Regions from separate parts of the Homo sapiens genome. Here region 1 is linked to region 2. Evidence: fine-mapped expression QTL. Tissue or cell type: whole blood. Region 2 holds a variant in brackets; the other region holds the start of a gene. All regions are shown on one strand. Distances are from middle to middle.

What was found. PIP is the estimated chance that this variant, and not a neighbour inherited with it, causes the effect.
Region 1: UBE2F starts here. The variant in region 2 is fine-mapped to the expression of UBE2F in whole blood (TOPMed, PIP 0.96).

What each region holds. Positions count from the first base shown.
Region 1 is chr2:237,963,693-237,971,794 of GRCh38, forward strand. It overlaps UBE2F (ubiquitin conjugating enzyme E2 F (putative)), which reads left to right and starts at 3,322. Exons shown (of 10, transcript NM_080678.3): 1 at 3,322-3,440. It overlaps UBE2F-SCLY (UBE2F-SCLY readthrough (NMD candidate)), which reads left to right and starts at 3,253. Exons shown (of 19, transcript NR_037904.1): 1 at 3,253-3,440. RefSeq lists cis regulatory regions at 456-859, 1,186-1,849 and a silencer at 3,366-3,545.
Region 2 is chr2:237,894,076-237,902,177 of GRCh38, forward strand. All of the region lies in intron 2 of RAMP1 (receptor activity modifying protein 1), which reads left to right. Among named protein-coding and RNA genes, the nearest start is that of RAMP1, 39 kb to the left of the region's middle. RefSeq lists enhancers at 651-4,880, 918-1,796, 4,848-4,897, 4,978-5,087. The variant A/G (reference allele first, on the strand shown) is at 4,733.

The DNA.
Region 1 (8,102 bases), 70 kb after region 2:
TTGAAATGGCCTTGCAAAGCTGTCTCTTGTGGGGAAAATCTACGTTCTGTAGATTTCCCTTTCCAGATCTTTTTCTGATCCAGGAGAGATTAACCAAGAGTCTGGCATCTTTTTAGGTCTGATAAGAAATACTTACCATCTATTTCTCTGAAGCCTGCTACCAGGAGGCTTCATCTACATAAGAACATTTGTCTATACAACACCTTATCTTATCCCAGACACTCCTTTCTATTCATTCCAGTTCGTTAGACAATAACTATTTCAACCAAATTGCCAATCAGAAAATCTTTGAATCTACCTATGATCCAGAAGCTCCTGCCTACCCTTCCCTGCTTCCAGTTATCCTGCCTTTCCAGACTGAACTAATGTACATGTATTGATTGGTGTCTGCCTGTAACTTCTGTCCCCCTGTTACCAAAAAGGGGTCCTGATCCAGACCCCAAGAGAGGGTTATTGGATCTCAAACAAGAAAGAATTCAAGAGGAATCCATTAGAGTAAAGTGAAGCAAGTATATTAGAGAAGTAAGGAAATAAAAGAATGGCTACTACGTAGGCAGAGCAGCCCCAAGGGCTGCTGGTTGGCCACTTTTATGGTCATTTCCTGATTATATGCTAAACAAGGGGTTGATTATTCGTGAGTTTTCCAGGAAAAGGCTGGGCAATTCCTGGAACTGAGGGGTCCTCCCATTTTTAGATCACATAGGATAACTTGCTGTCTTTGCCATGACATTTGTAAACTGTCATGGCACTGGTGAGAGTGTCTTTTAGCAACAGATACATTATAACTAGTGCGTAATGAACAGTGAGGATGAACAGAGAACACTTTCGTCGCTATCTTGGTTTTGGCCGGCTTCTTAATGGCATCCTTTTAACGGCAAGCTCTTTGTGACCTGTACCTGTGCCAACCTTCTATGTCATCCTGTGACTTAGAATGCCTAACCTCCTGGGAATGTAGCCCAGTAGGTCTTAGCCTCAAGATGGAGTTGCTCTGGTTCAAACGCCTCTGACACCCCTAAAATTTATAAAAATCGAGCTGTAATCCAACCACCTTGGCACATGTTCTCAGGACCTCTTGAGGCTGTGACTCAGGCCTTCGTCACTCATATTTGGCTCTGAATAAAATCTCTTCAAATATTTTACAGTTTGACCTTTTTTGCCAACAGACTACTTAACTTCTGTGTCAGTTTCCTCATCTATAAAATGGGGATAATACCTGTTTCATGGGGTTATTGTTTGGATTAATTGAGTTAATAAACTAGGAAGTCCTAAATAAGTCTTAGTGAAAGAATTAGGCAGCCTCATGAAATGGAGCTAGAAATGACTTCATTCATCCACAGCGGTGGAATTTGGGCCTACGTGGGCCAATGTGTGGTGCAATCCATTCTGCAGACAGTGACGCTTATGAGTAAGACAAGTGCTCACGCCATTCCGGCTGCACCTTCACACACTGCAATCTTCAAGCCCTTATCTCCTCTCACCAGGACTCATGCCGCCAGCGCATGCAATCTCTATCCAGCAGATGTGTTTTAATCACCTGCATGTTCCAGGATGGGAAAGGGGGTGGCAGGAGGTGACGCTGGAGGAAGAAGGAAGAGGAGGGCTGAGGAGCTGAGCTTAGTCAGGGAAACAGGCCATGACAATAAGGAAGAGGGAAGTGCAGGGCTCCAAGGAAGACACAGAGGGCACCTGCACTGCCCCACCCCACCCCCAGGCTTTGAGGCCTATCAGAAGTTGGTGTCTTAGCTTAGGAAAACTTGAGAGTTAGCCGGGCAAAAAAGGGAGAGACATGGTCCCAAACACAAGAAATAACACAAGTTGTGTTCTTTCTTTTTTCTTTTTTTTCTGGAAACAGTCTTGCTGTGTCACCCAGACTGGAGTGCAGTGTCAGCTCACTGCAACCTCCGCCTCCTGGGTTCAAGCAATTCTCCTGCCTCAGCGTTCCAAATAGCTGGGATTACAAGGGCGCACCACCACGCCCGGCTTTTTTGTATTTTTAGTAGAGATGGGGTTTTGCCATGTTGGCCAGGCTGGTCTTGAACTCCTGACCTCAGGTGATCTGTCTGCCTCGGCCTCCCAAAGTGCTGGGATTACAGGCCTGAGCCACTGCGCCCGGCTGAGTTGTGTTCTTGACCAGTTTTCCTGACTCCATTCCCACCGACTCACTTAGAGCCAAAGCCTTTATTATTATTATGGGGACAGGGTCTGCCCTGTCACCCAAGCTGGAGTGCAGTGGTGCGATCACGGCTCACTGCAGCCTCAACCTCCTGGGCTCAGGTGATCCTCCCATCCCAGCCTCCTGAGTAGCTGGGACTACAGGCGCGCGCCACCACGCGGCTAATTTTTTTTTTCTTTTTTTGTAGCGATGGGGTCTTGCCACCATCAGGAGGCTGGTCTTAAACTCTTGGGCTCATGGGATCCTCCCACTTTGGCCTCCCAAAGTGCTAGGATTACAGGCGTGAGCCACCGGGCCCGCCAGCCTCCTTTAGGAAGAAAACCTGATAGTCACTCCACTGTTAGAAACCTCTCAGTGGGGTTTTTCGAAATGAAAGTCTAACTCCTTGTCTCTTTCTGACCGTTTCCATGCTGAACCTCATCTTTCTAATGGCCCACTCCTCCAGGGGCCTGCCTGACGCCCAGGACGGCCCCTCGTCAATCACACAGGACGCTAATGGGCGCGGGATGAATCTGGGCGCCCAAAAGAGGACAAGTTGAAATGGATTTTTAAGGTACTTTAAACACATTTAAGAGAGAAAAGAAGGAATAAAAGGGACATGACAAGAACAGTGGGGCCTGTGGGCGCAGCACACGGTTTGGGGTTGGTCGTGGCTTGCGTGTCTGACCGCCCGGTCTCCCTCACCGCCTGCACTGCAGGCTGCGGGGGCCTGTCCAGTCCTTTGCACTCCAGGTGCGGCGCTGGACAGCGGGAGCTCCAGCCACGGAGGCCGCTCCTTCAGGGAAGGATAGCCCGGGCTCCTCCGTGCCCCTAAACCCTGCAGACCACGAAGTGAACCCGTGTTGGAACCAGGTGCAAAACCCCCAGCCCTCCGGCGCTCGGGCTCCAGAGCCAACTCGGAATCCCCGCCCCTAACGCTACTCGCCAATCAGCGGCGGTTGCGAAATCCGTGCCCGCCCCCTGGCCGCGCCCTCTGCCAATGAGCGAGGTCCGAGAGGCCCGTCGCCCAGCCCAGTCCCGATCGGCGCACGCCGCTGTTCGCGTGTCTGGTTCCAAATAAAGTTTTTCGCGACTTTGAATTTTTTTTTTAAAGCGCCCGCTGCTGTCTCGGCTGCCGCGGGCGAGAGCGGCCGAGTCCCCGCCCCGCCACTTCCGGTCCCGCCGCCGGGAGCCGGTGCGGCTGTGAGGGGCCGCGTCTCGCAGCAGCCGCCCGGACCGGGCATGGTGTTGGGCGCCGGGCCCGCCTCGCCTGTCTCGGGGAGCCCAGGTGAGGAGCGACCGTGCGGCTCTGCGGCGGGGCGAGGTGCGGCCGCCGGTGCACGGGCTGGCCTGCGGGCCGGGCGGAGGGCGCGGGCGGTGGCGGGGCCGCCTCGGGCCCGCCGGGTTCCTCACGCCGGGGGCCTGGCGGGCGCGGGCACCCGGACGCGAGGCCGAGCGGCGTGAATGGGAAGGGGCCGCGGGCCGCGGGCCGCGAGCCGGGGGTCGGAGGCGGCGTCGGCGGCCGGGGCGCTGGCCTCGCCCGGCAGTGAGTGACCGCGGCGGCGGCGGCGGGGGACGGCCCGCGCCGAGCACCTGGTGTGAACCAGGCCCTGGGCCGAGCGTGGCACAGACCTGGCCGCGCTCACGCCCCACTCGCGGGATCGGCTGCCTGCCTTGTACGGAGGAAGCGGGGCGTCCAGCGCCTGGCCAAGGTCACCGGCCCGACGTGGCCGCAGAAACCGGGACTGGACTCCCGATCGGGGCAGGAGTCGCGCTAGGCCGTGAGGAGCGGGGGAGGTGAGGGGAGTGACAACTCGCGCCCGGTCCTCGTACCTGCAGCGGGAAGAGTAAGTATGGACGCTTACCTACAACTGGGGGCGGCCAGGCTAGTTTGGAAAATTTTTACCACAGCAAAGGAGACGAGGAAGGAAGGGCATCTTGGAACAATTAGTGCAGCAGAGTCTTGGTTCCAGACCTAGTTCTGCTGGTGTGTCATCTTGGGTGTGGCCTTCCCCTCCCTGGGCTCAGTTTCCTCATCTGTCACAGGAGAGAATTGGGTCCCCCCACTCTGCATTCCCGACCGCCTGGAAGTGGGGGCAGGATGGGTTGGAATAGCCAGAGAAAGCTTCTTGGAGGAGGAGATGTTGGGATGTAGGTAGGAATCTTCCCCTTAAGGAAGGGGTAGGATTCGTTTGTGAAGGGAAGGAGGGCATTCTAGACCTGGGTATCAGACTGAATAGAAGCTTCTGGAAATGAACAGGGTGTTGTGAAGGAACAAAGAGGAAACTGGCCTGCCTGGTGCAGAGGAATCCTGGCTGAGGAGTGAGATGAAGGCAAGGGGGAGCATAGAGGTGGGAGAGAGAGAGAGATTGAGAGACAGAATCACACCAAGCTTAGTGCTGTGGGGCTTGAGGACCCCCCACCTGGACATACCTGCCTTTCAGGTAGTAGGCAGTGCAGGAAGGGGCAGGTTTACTGCTGAACGTAAAAGGGGCTGGGCTCCAAAGATGGTCGGTCAACCAGCGTACTCCTGTGCCGAGCAGGAGGTTCCTGGGCACTGGCATTCTGTAGAAGAGTGGGATGTGGACTTTGTTGTGCCCTGATCGGGGCCCCTTTGGCTGGGGAAGTTGAGTGTCCCCTAGTGACCCGCAGTCCCATCCTTTATGCTTGGATTGAGACGTCTCCATTCGGAAGGAATTGTAAATAAGTAGCCCCCTCACCTTGAGCTGACTGGCCCCTGGTGTCCCTGCACAAGTGACATGGCCTGGTTTTGCCATTGCTTGCAGGGATGCTGAGTAAATATCACTTGATGGCACTAGTAAGTTGCACACCAGATGCTCTTCTCCGGGCTGTCTGAAAGCAGGTCCCACCCAGAGGAGGAACCTAACTGGGCCAATTACAACTTGTGGAATTTAGAAACTGAGAATGCTGTTCAGAACAGCTGATCTGTTACCGAAATGCTGCCTTAGAGCGTAATTTGCAGGAAAGAGGAAGTTTTGTTTTAAACCAGATCTTCAAGAGTTGAAGCATATTGAAGAAGGAAAAGAATTCTGAAGCAACTGCAGGTATTCAGCTAGCCTCTTGACAGTTTGAAGACTTACTTTTTGATAGAATCCTTTGGTTTAAATTTAATTTTACAGCTATGGCAACATTCCCAAATTAGGCCTTGGGTTTATTCTTAAAGTGGCGTGTGAAAATGATACACACGATAGAAAAATAGATGGTCACTATATTAGATTTCTTAGAATGTTAGAGAAGTACATTTTTTATTACTTTCTATGGAAAACAAAGCACCAGTGTTACATTCTTTTATATCTTGCAAGTCACAGACTTGAAGATAGTAAACCAGCAATCTGACTCTTCAGTGGAATTGAATGTTGGAGCGTCTTCTGCCCACAGAGAAGACTTCATCGTGGCGTGATTGGGGGTATAAAAGCGTTAAGCGTAGCCTGCGGGCTGTAGTGGTGCAGAAGAGTTTCTTGGTGGTTGGCCTTTGAGTGCATGAAGGATCTCTCTCCCCAGGCTTCCCTGAGCCTCCTTCAGGGAGCTGCATGTGGCCCTGGTGCTTGCTGTTCTGTGGGACTCTTCATTCTGACTTTCCTAGGTTACTGCCTGCTGAACTCATGTTCAAGCAGTTGTGCTTTTATTTTTCACTCTTTGCTTCATTTGCATTCCCAAGGTCAGCCAGAGACCTGGTAGTCCTTGTGTAGGGCATCTGGTGCGTCCAGCTGACCCCCAGGTGATGGATGGATGCACGTCTTGGTCCATTATTGGGTGACTCTGACGATGTGGCAGGACTGATGTGCTCGAGTCTGCACACGGGGCAGCAGACTTGGCTGGGAAGGGAGACACTGTTCCATGACAAGGAATCCTTGTGAGGGATTTTTGACAAGATCATTCCAGGTAGGGGCTGAAGCAGGAGAGCTTGGCTCTAGATGGTGCTGCTGTCTGTGGTAGCTAAAGCCCCTACAGGTGTTTGTGACTATTTGCCTGTGAAGTAACTTCATCAGCTGAACCCAGCTGCTTTGCTCTGGGCGAAGCTGTGAAGATGTGCTCTTATGGAGGGCCACCTGAGGAGATGGCACAGTAGCGTAACAATGAAGAAACTAATGTTGGTTTATTTTCACATTTTTGTCAACTTTATTGAGGCGTAATTGAAATACACTAAATTGCCCATATTTAAATTGTGTAATTGATCAGTCTGAAACCATGACCACACTCGAGATAAAAACATTTCCTGCCCGGCATGGTGGCTCACGTCTGTAGTCCCAGCACTTTGGGAGGCTGAGGCAGGTGGATTGCTTCCGCTCAGGAATTCAAGACCAGCCCGGGTAACATGGTGAAACCCTGTCTCTACAAAAAAAATTAAAATTAGCTGGACATGATGGTGCCTGCCTGTAGTCCTAGCTGCTTTAGGAGGTGGAGGGTGCTGAGGTGGGAGGATCTCTTGAACCTGGGAGTTTGAGCCTGCACTGAGCTCAAGTCACGCCACTGCACTCCAGCCTGGGCTACAGAGCAAGACCTGTCTCAAAAAACAAACAAAAAACATTTTTGTCATCCACAAGAGGGAAACTAGTGTGTCTGTGGTGACAGCTTCTAGCAGCTGAGTGGCTTTGGGCAGCCTACCTTCTGGGCCTCTGTTGTCCTGGGGTCCACATGTTAAAATGGAATGGGAGTGAGAGAAGTCCATTCCAACTTTGCAATTCTGAGAGCTTATGACCGTGAAAGTGCAGAGCTGTCTTTGAAACCTTTAGACCAGTGCTTCTTAAGGGGTTTAGGGTATGTGTATGTCCGTGTCCTCTAGTGGAAAAGACTGTGCAGTTCAGAAGATCGTATTCTATGTATTGTTTTCGTTTTGAAAAAATTCTTTAAATTTTTTTATCTTTTGAGATGCGGTTTCACTCTTGTTGCCCAGGCTGGAGTGCAATGGCACAATCACTGCAACCTCCACCTCCCGGGTTCAACCTATTCTTCTGCCTCAGCCTCCTGAGTAGCTGGGATTTACAGGCACCCGCCACCATGCCGAGCTAATTTTTTTTGGTATTTTTAGTGGAGATGGGGTTTTGCCATGTTGGGCAGGCTGGTCTAGAACTCCTGACCTCAGGTGACCCACCTGCCTCGGCCTACCGAAGTGCTGGGATTATAGGCATGAGCCACCATGCCTGGCCTGTACTGTTTTCATGGTACAAACAATAGAAAATAAAATCTGACAGCATTTAGGGGATATGCAGAAGATGGTGTGAGAAACTGTGTAAGAGACCTGGGTGAAAAATGGTTTCAAATGCCAATGAGGAACGGAGTATTCTTATTTGACTTTCAGGATCTTAGCCTCAACCTAAAATTTCTGTGCTTAGGTCAAGCTTTTCACATGGAATTTTTAGATCATTTTCTGTTGAAACGATCAGAGTGGTATTGAAATAAAATGATACGAAAGCAACAAAGGAAATTATGGAAATATTGAACTGGTGACAATTTATTTTGTTTTATTTTATTTTATTTTTTTGAGTCTCACTCTGTTGCCAGGCTGGAGTGCAGTGGTGCAATCTTAGCTCACTGCAACCTCTGCCTCCCGGCTTCAAGTGATTCTCCTGCCTCAGCCTCCCAAGTAGCTGGGACTACAGGTGTGGGCCACCACGCCCGGCTAATTTTTTTGTATTTTAGTAGAGACGGGGTTTCACCATGTTGGCCAGGGTGGTCTCGGTCTCCTGGCCTCATAATCCACCTGTCTCGTTCCCCTAAAGTGTTGGGATTACAGGCATGAGCCACGGCACCTGGCCCTGGTGACAAATATTTGTCCTCAGTCAAAAGAAGTTCCAGTGACCCTCTCTGACCATGGCAAGGAGGACGATTAATGTCAGTTTATGTTAGAAACAGAAGGCAGAGTCTAGCGGATAGTTACTTTGTTACAATTAGTGGGATCATAATGTAAGCTGTGGACTTTGAGTTATAA
Region 2 (8,102 bases):
TCTTGTGCCTCAGCCTCCCTAGAAGCTGGGACTACAGGTGCATGCCATGATGCCCAGCTAATTTTGTGTATTTTTAGTAGAGACAGGATTTCGCCATGTTGCCCAGGCTGGTCTTGAACTCCTGACCTCAAGTGATCAGCCCACCTTGGCCCTCCAAAGTCTTGGGATTACAGGCGTGAGCCACTTCACCCGGCCTAAAGTAGTTTTTAATTAGGATATTGTAATTGAAACTAATTATACTGCAGTGAATTAAAGTTTCCTTTATCCCCAAGCCTAATGGACACATTAACTCACCTCTTTACAGGGAGGCCAGATTTCTGCCATTGTGGGAAGGAGGCAGGAGGAGCCGGGGGCAGTGCTGGGGTGGGAGCTAGGCCAGGGCGAGGCTGGCTGTGGAAGGGCCCTTTGGGCAGCCGCAGGCCATACGTCCTCAGACCTGGGGCAGCCAGGACCACCAGGGAATGTTGCTGACAGGCAGCACCAGCGCCTGAATCCCCCGCCCCAGATGGACCTGGCTAGGGGGTGAGACCCCCCTGCCACCCCTCCATCCCAGAAGCCAGGCGGGGCTGAGGCTCTATGGGTCCCCACCACACTTATTTATTGGCACCTTCATCCTCCTGGTGCACTGTGGCAGTTCCAAGGCCCAGGCTGTCCAGGTGGCTTTTGAACTGTGGAGAGGCCCCTGGACGGCTGGAACCTTCTCCCTTGCTCGGGTGAATGTGGCTCCCCGTGGTGCACAAACACGTTCAAAGACGGAACAAAGGGACACGTGTTCATAGGAGGTGAGACAAAGCGTTGCCAGCCCTGGGGAACAGGAGTGGCCTGTTCCTACTCCTATCTGGTTGTGGTTCTCCTTCGACAAGTTAGGTGAAGGCACCTTGGTAGCAGGGTACCCTTCAGAATCCAGATACCTGATTCAGCTCAGCAGCCATTTGCTGAGCACTTAGCAGGCACCTAGCCAATGGTGCCAGCCACCAAGGGCCCAGCAGGGCAGGACCTCCCCCTCCCTCCTGGAGCCACGGCCCCCCAGCACCATGGCCTCTGGAGCCCCTCACCCTCCCTTGAGGTCAGCCCTATGGTGGCGATTGTAGAGCGAGTCAGGAGCGAGACAGGAGGCCACGTGTTGCCTGCCTGTGTGGGGCTCCCATCCAAAGGCAGGGCAGCGCGAGTCACATGCCCACCCCCTGCTGTGCAAAGGGGTCCTGTGGGGGGGTCATGGGCTCCCATCAGAGAATGGCATGGTGGTGGCCCTCTGAGGGAGTTCTCACCACGCTGCTGCTGTGAGCCAGGGATCACTGAACCCATTTTAAAGGTGAAAACACCGAGGCTCCGTAACTGCCAACTCCTCAAAACCCCCACAGTGAACACCCCACGTTGGGATGTTTCCTGGCCTGGCCTTTCCCCACACTCAGTGTTGCCCTGAGCTCCAAACGAGGTGAGATTGTGGCAGGAGGGCAGGGGTGGCAAGGCTGCTACCCCGATGGAGGCGGCCAGTTGGTGGGATGCCCGAACAGGGACCAGCATGGTGCAGGGCGCCCCGTGGGTGGGCAGGATGGGTCGCTGAAGGCTCGTGAAGCCCGGCAGGGGTCCCTGAAGAGTCTAGTGGCATCGGGGGAGAGTTTCTTGTACAGAGAGGGTGAGTATGCTTTGGGCCGGCTGGCTGGGGCTGAGACCAGGGGTGGATAGGAAGGCAGAGCCCGTCCAGCCTCCAGGCCAGCGTTGCTTCACAAGGACAATGCCCCCAGGGTGTTAGCATCCAAATATAGCTTGCCGGCTGTCATGCTTAATCCTGAGACTCGGACACATGTCACACCCATGTCCCCGTGAGGTGGGAACCCTGGGGCCTGGACAGGCCTGAGTGTGGTCTCAGCCCCATCACACACAGCTGGGCAGCTAGACCTGGGTGTCCCCACAGGGGTGCCAGGACACCTCCCAGGGGTTGTAGTGAGCCCTCAGCACCCGGCCCACAATGGGCACAGCTCAGCGATCTCCCAGCATTCCCTGATCCTCGGACCCTGGGACGCAATGCAACCCCTGCTCAGGCCCAGATGCAGCCAGCATAGGACAGTCTGTGACTTTGCCTGGGACACCCACTGCATTTTAAAACTGCACTTCATTTGGCAGCCCCAGGAGCCAGGGCGCTGCCCAGGCCTGTTCTCAGAGGAGGTATTATGCCCGTCCGCCCGCCTGCTGTGGCTGCTCTGTGGGGAGCCTGACTTGGCAGCTCCCAGGCTGTGTCTGGTGCCAGACCTGGCTGCACATGGAGCCAGGGATGGATTTAGAAACCTCTCGCTTCTCCCAGCATGGGCAGAGGCGCCCAGATTCCTCCCCGGCCTGGGGCCACCATAGCAGGAGAAGGGGAGGGAGGCAGAGGAAGCCAGGCCCAGGGAGGGCCAAGCAGCCCCCAGGCAGACCCCTGGACCGTTCCCCAGTCTGCACTGCCGCCTCAGGGACCTCCCCATCACCTCAGCAAGCGCCCTTTTCTGTAAGGAGGGGGTAAGAACACCTGCCCTCGGGTGATGTGAGAAGCACACTCACGCGGGGAAACAGGTCTTAGTATTTTCTTAGACTTTGTTTTGTTTTGTTTTAAGGCAGGGTCTCACTCTGCCGCCTAGATTGGAATGCAGTTGCATGATCTTAGCTCACTGCAGACTTGACTTCCTGGACTCAAGCAACCCTCTTGACTCAGCCTCCCAAGTAGCCAGGACTATAGGCACACACCACCACTCCTGGCTAACTTTTAAACTTTGTGTAGAGATGGGGGAGTCTCTCTGTGTTGCCCAGACTGGTCTGGAACTCCTGGGCTCAAGCGATCCTCCTGTTTTGGCCTCTCAAAGTGCTGGGGTTGCAGGCGTGAGCCACTGCACCCAGCCTCTTAGACTTTTGGACAGCAGAGGGGCCAGGCCTTTAAATGTCCTGGGGGTGTGATGTGCTGTCCGTGGGGATGGTGGGGTCACCTGCCCCAGCCTCAGTGGGTCCCTCTTTTACATGCCTGCAGCTCACCGGATGCTCCCGTGTGGCACTCAGCTATCATGAGGTGTGCATCCGTCCAGGTGGACCCCAGAGCCCCGCATGCAACCACGGGCCCCGCCTGGGCCTCAGCCTCCATCCCAGGAATGGGAGAACCAGCTTCACTTCAGGCCAGGAAAGAGGGAGACTGAAAGAGCAGATGACATGGGACAGGACAGAGCCTGAGGCCCAGACAGGCCATGAGCGAGGGGAGGTGAGAATAAGGCCACAGGTGGTCCCGTGTCTGCCTTCCCTGCTCAACGTGCAGAGAGGGCTGGCCATTTTCTCCGGCTTCATCAGCATGCTCTACAGTCACTGCGAGTGTTGCAGGAGGAATTGTGGCCTCCTCCACAGCAGCGAGAACACTGAGCCCCGTTTCATCTGTCTTCCTCCTGTTTCCTTGAACCCTCCCAAGATTCTTTCTTTGGTGCGTTATTCATGTTGTTCCTTTTCCTGCAAGAGAGAGGCCTTTGTCCTCCTTGTTCAGCAAGCACCTAGTCAGTGGTAAAGTGCAATATTTAGCTGGTAACAAAGGTGTGGAATGGAATTGGCTTCCATGATTTGGCGAAGTATTTGCAAGAAGCCTATGGTGAGGCTTCTTGTTTACAGATCCACGTGTCTTAGTGGAAACCTCAGAAACACATGCTCTCGTGGATGCTGTCATTCTTCTTTTTTTGTTTGTTTTGGTTTTTTGGGGGGGGGTTTTGTTTTTTGTTTGTTTGTTTGTTTTTTGAGATGGGGTCTCGCTCTTTCTCCCAGGCTGGAGTGCAGTGGTGCAACCTCAGCTCACTGCAACCTCCACCTCCCGAGTTCAAGCCATTCTCCTGCCTCAGCCTCCTGAGTAGATGGGACCACAGGCGTGCACCACCACGCCCAGCTAATTTTTGTATTTTTAGTAGAGACTGGGTTTCACCATGTTGGCCAGGCTGGTCTCAAACTCCTGACCTCAGGTGATCCACCCTCCTCAGCCTCCCACAGTGCTGGGATTGCAGGCGGGAACCACTGTGCCTGGCCAGATGCTGTAATTCTTTGGAAAGGGATGGAGTTGGCATTTCCCCTTATGCTGTTGGGAAAATGGCTTTGCTAAGATGTCAGAAGTCCCTGTTAATACAACTTAAATAGATAAACCATAGTCAGAGCCTGGGGAAAATTCCTGTTTAACATATTCATTTGCATGCAGTGATGACACTTATTTCAAAGCATTCCTGTCTCAGCAATGCAGTAGGTCAAATGTGTAGGCATCCCTGGGCTGGCACAGGTACATAGGACTTCTAATGCTTGGCCTTTTCCCTAGTTTGATTGTACTCTCTGACCAGCCTGATTTAGGAAGGGTTTGATAGTACAATATCCGTCTTTCCCTCACGCGTGCTGCCAGTCCCAGGGGGATGGGAGCAGCCACTCACCCGTAGGAGTTCCAGGTGTGCACAGCTGGCTCAGAGCCTGCTGGCCCAGCACACATTTCCCAGGCCAGCACAGTGTGCTGAAGTGCTTTTCATCAAACAGTTAACAAGACTTCCTTATACATTTCCCCAGTGTCAAGAAAAACAAAAGGTGCCCAGTTCTCTGCTGCCTCCAGCAGTGCTGGGCAGAAGTGAGACAGGAAGCCAGGCTCCCGAGCTCACACACGCAGACGTAGGTGGGAAGCTACACTGCGTGGGCTTTCACATCCCCAGGGCCCGGGCTGAGGCCTCTTAAAGACAAGCTGGCCCTGTGCTTGCTCCAC[A/G]CCTGACGCACGCCAGGCCAGGCCACAGCGTGGCTCTCTGTCAACAGAGGAAGTGGCGCAGTAAGTGGCCAGCCCCTCCCTGCTTTGGAAAGGTCCCGCTATTCACAGAATCCTGGGTGTGAGCCCTGACACCAAAGGCAGAAACCACAAGGGAGAAGCCAGCCCTGGCTGCCTAAATGCGAAATAAGCCTGTTGCTGGCTGCCACGAAAATGCCACTGTGTTCCAGTCCTAAATGGGGTGCATGCTATTGGTTTGAGACAGTGATTTTTTTTTTTTCTTTGAGACTGGGTCACACTCTGTCACCCATGCTGGAGTGCAGTGGCATGATCTCCGCTCGCTGCAACCTCCGCCTCCCGGGTTCAAGCAATTCTCCTGCCTCAGCCTCCTGAGTAGCTGGGACTACAGGCACACGCTGCCACACCCAGCTAATTTTTTGTATTTTAGTAGAGATGGGGTTTCACCGTGTTGCCCAGGCTGGTCGCGAACTCCTGACCTCAGGTGACCCGCCCGCCTCGGCCTCCCAAAGTGCTGAGATTACAGGCGTGAGCCACTGCACCTGGCCGAGAGAGAGATTTTTATCACATGAAGAAAATAGCTTCTTTCTGTGTTTTCAAGGTTGTGGCTTTTTTAAAATCAGAAAAGAATATTGAGTTTTCTCAAATGCCTTCTCAATGCGTATTAAAATGACGGTACATTTTTTTCCCATGGTGTATTAAAGTGTGATTTTGTAGTAACAGGTTTAAAGCATTCCTGAAATTAGCCCTCCTTTAAATAAAATATGCTATGTGGCTAGATGAAGTTTGTTAGCATTGGGTAGGGGACTTGAGTGTCTATTTATAGGTGGAAGCGAAGGGCATCTGTTCCGTCCGTGTGCGCATGCGTTGAGACGCATGTCATGCCATCTCAAGAGGCTTGGGATCAGGGTTTGTTAACTTTTTTAAATGAACTGGGAAGCTGCACATCTTTTTCTTTCACTTTAAGAATTTGCAGTGGCTCACGCCTCCCACACCTGTAATCCCAGCACTTTGGAAGGCCGAGGTGGGAGGATCGCTTGAGCCCAGGAGTTTGAGACCAGCCTGAGCAACATAGTGAGAACCTGTCTCAATTAAAAAGAAAAAAAAAGAATTTGAAAGAACTGCCTGGGATCTAGTGCCTTTTGAAACAGCAATTCTTTAATAACATTTGCCATTTTTCTTCTTGGAATTCCTCCTTTTTAAGTCGATATTTGATAGTTTATAATTTAACCAAAAAGTATCCCAATTCACTGAGGATTTTCCAATTTTTAACAAACCTTTTTTACGTATTAATCTCTTATACTTCTTCTTTTTCTTTTCTGTTTTTTGTTTTTTGTTTATTTGTTTGTTTGTTTAGGACAGTGTCTGGCTCTGTCGCCCAGGCTGGAGTGCAGTGGCACGATCTCGACTCACTGCAACCTCTGCCTCCTGGGTTCACGGCATTCTCGTGCCTCAGCCACTCAAGTTAACTGGGACTACAGGTGTGTGCCACCATGCCTGGCTAATTTTGATATTTTCAGCAGAGATGGGGTTTCGCCATGCTGCCCCGGCTGGTCTTGAACTCCTGAGCTCAAGTGATCTGCCCACCTCGGCCTCCCAAAGTGGTGGTATTACAGGCGTGAGCCACCGCACCTGGCCTATATTGCTTCTAATAATTATTGATGGACAAATTATGTGCCATTTGGAGAGATTTATTTTGTTCTTTTTAAAAAATATCTTGCTTTGGATACTTATTTTGTTTATTTTCATTTATTTTTGTTTAATAAAATAATTTATAACTATTAATTTTTCTCAGAATTCACTTTTGCCCCATTCCATTCATTTGTACATATAGTATTGCCGATCTTGTTCTCTTAATATTTTGTAATTGAATTTTTAAATTCTCCTGTGACTTCGAAATTATATAAATGATCTTTCATTTCTAGGAATTCCATTTTTTTAAATTTATCCTTTTTTTAAAACTAATTTTTAGTTTTCAGTATTGTAGCCTGAGAATATTGACTTATGATTTATACTCTGGGGATTTGATGAGTCTCTTTTTGCCGCCTAACACAGACCCAGGGGCCTTTGAAAAGCCGGCTGAGTCTCTGTAGAATAGAACCTTTATCAGACAGTCACTGCATCGGTTTATTAACATTATTTTTCATAATCACTTTATGCTACTGTTTATCTACCTAGCCTTGGGAGGTGTGTTTAAGTCTCCCACGTGTCTTGCGTTCCTGGCAGCTGCGGGCTGTCTGTACGCTGTGGCGCAGTGCCAGCTGTCCTGGGTGGAGCATCCCCATCAGCCCCACTGATGGCCCTTCTCACCGGCCTGGGCCAGGTCTGCTGGGAAGCCCACACCCCTGCTCACCTTCTGTCTGCGTCTCCTGGGTACATCCCTCTCTCGCTGTCTTCCTTCAGGCTTTGTTTCACTTTGCCTTGGAGGTGGCCACTGTGACCAGAGTAAGGGGGATTTTTGCTCTTACCCTCCCTGCCCCGGTGGTGTCTGCAGTCTGGTTGTTGAGACCAACAGTGGGTGAATAATCACATGAGTTCATGGACAGCCACAAAGTAACACCCATCTATGAAGGAAAACCCCACTTTGCTGGGGAAGCCAAATATGATTGAAGCATCCAGAAAAGGCCTCTTTGAGGACGTGACATTTAAGCGAAGGGCGAGCATAGGGTGGCCTTGTGAAGATGAGGCTAAGAGCTTTCCAGTTAAAAGGAACAGCATGTGCAAAGGTCCTGAGGCAGAACACTGGCCACTGTGGCTAGAATGTGGCCAGCAGGAGGGAGGGGACCCAGTTGAGTGACCCACACAGAAGCTTCTGAATCTGGGACAGGTGTAATGGTGAGCACTGAAGGCGTGAAGCAGGGGTGGGAAGGTGTGGACGGTGGGCTTGGGCAGCGGCCAGGGTGTGGGATGTGGCCTGGAGAGCCCGTGGTAGCTAAGCCCAGCATGCAGAGTGGAGGGCGGTGGAGGGGTTTGATGGCTGCCCCTGACTAAACTGGGGGAGGCAGAAGAAGGGGTAGATAGATGCCAAGCCCCCACATACTCACTACAGAAAAGTGGAAGCTGGTATGTAAGTTGTAATAACCCATCCACCAGGACGAGTCACTTCTGCCCCATCCTGGGCACAGTGATGGGGCCTCAGGAGGGGAGGGCACCCTTGAGGGAAAGGGGAGCCATGATAACTCAGGGGATAGGCATGGCATGGGGGCCCTGAGTCACATGTGTTCACAGCCAGAAGTGAACAGCCCAGGCTTCAGGTGGAGGAGGGAGAATGGGGAACTCTCAGGTGCAGCCCAAGGCCGAGAGAGAAGGAGCACTTCGCGGGGGATGCCTCTCCTCCGGGGGCTGGTAAGGGCCC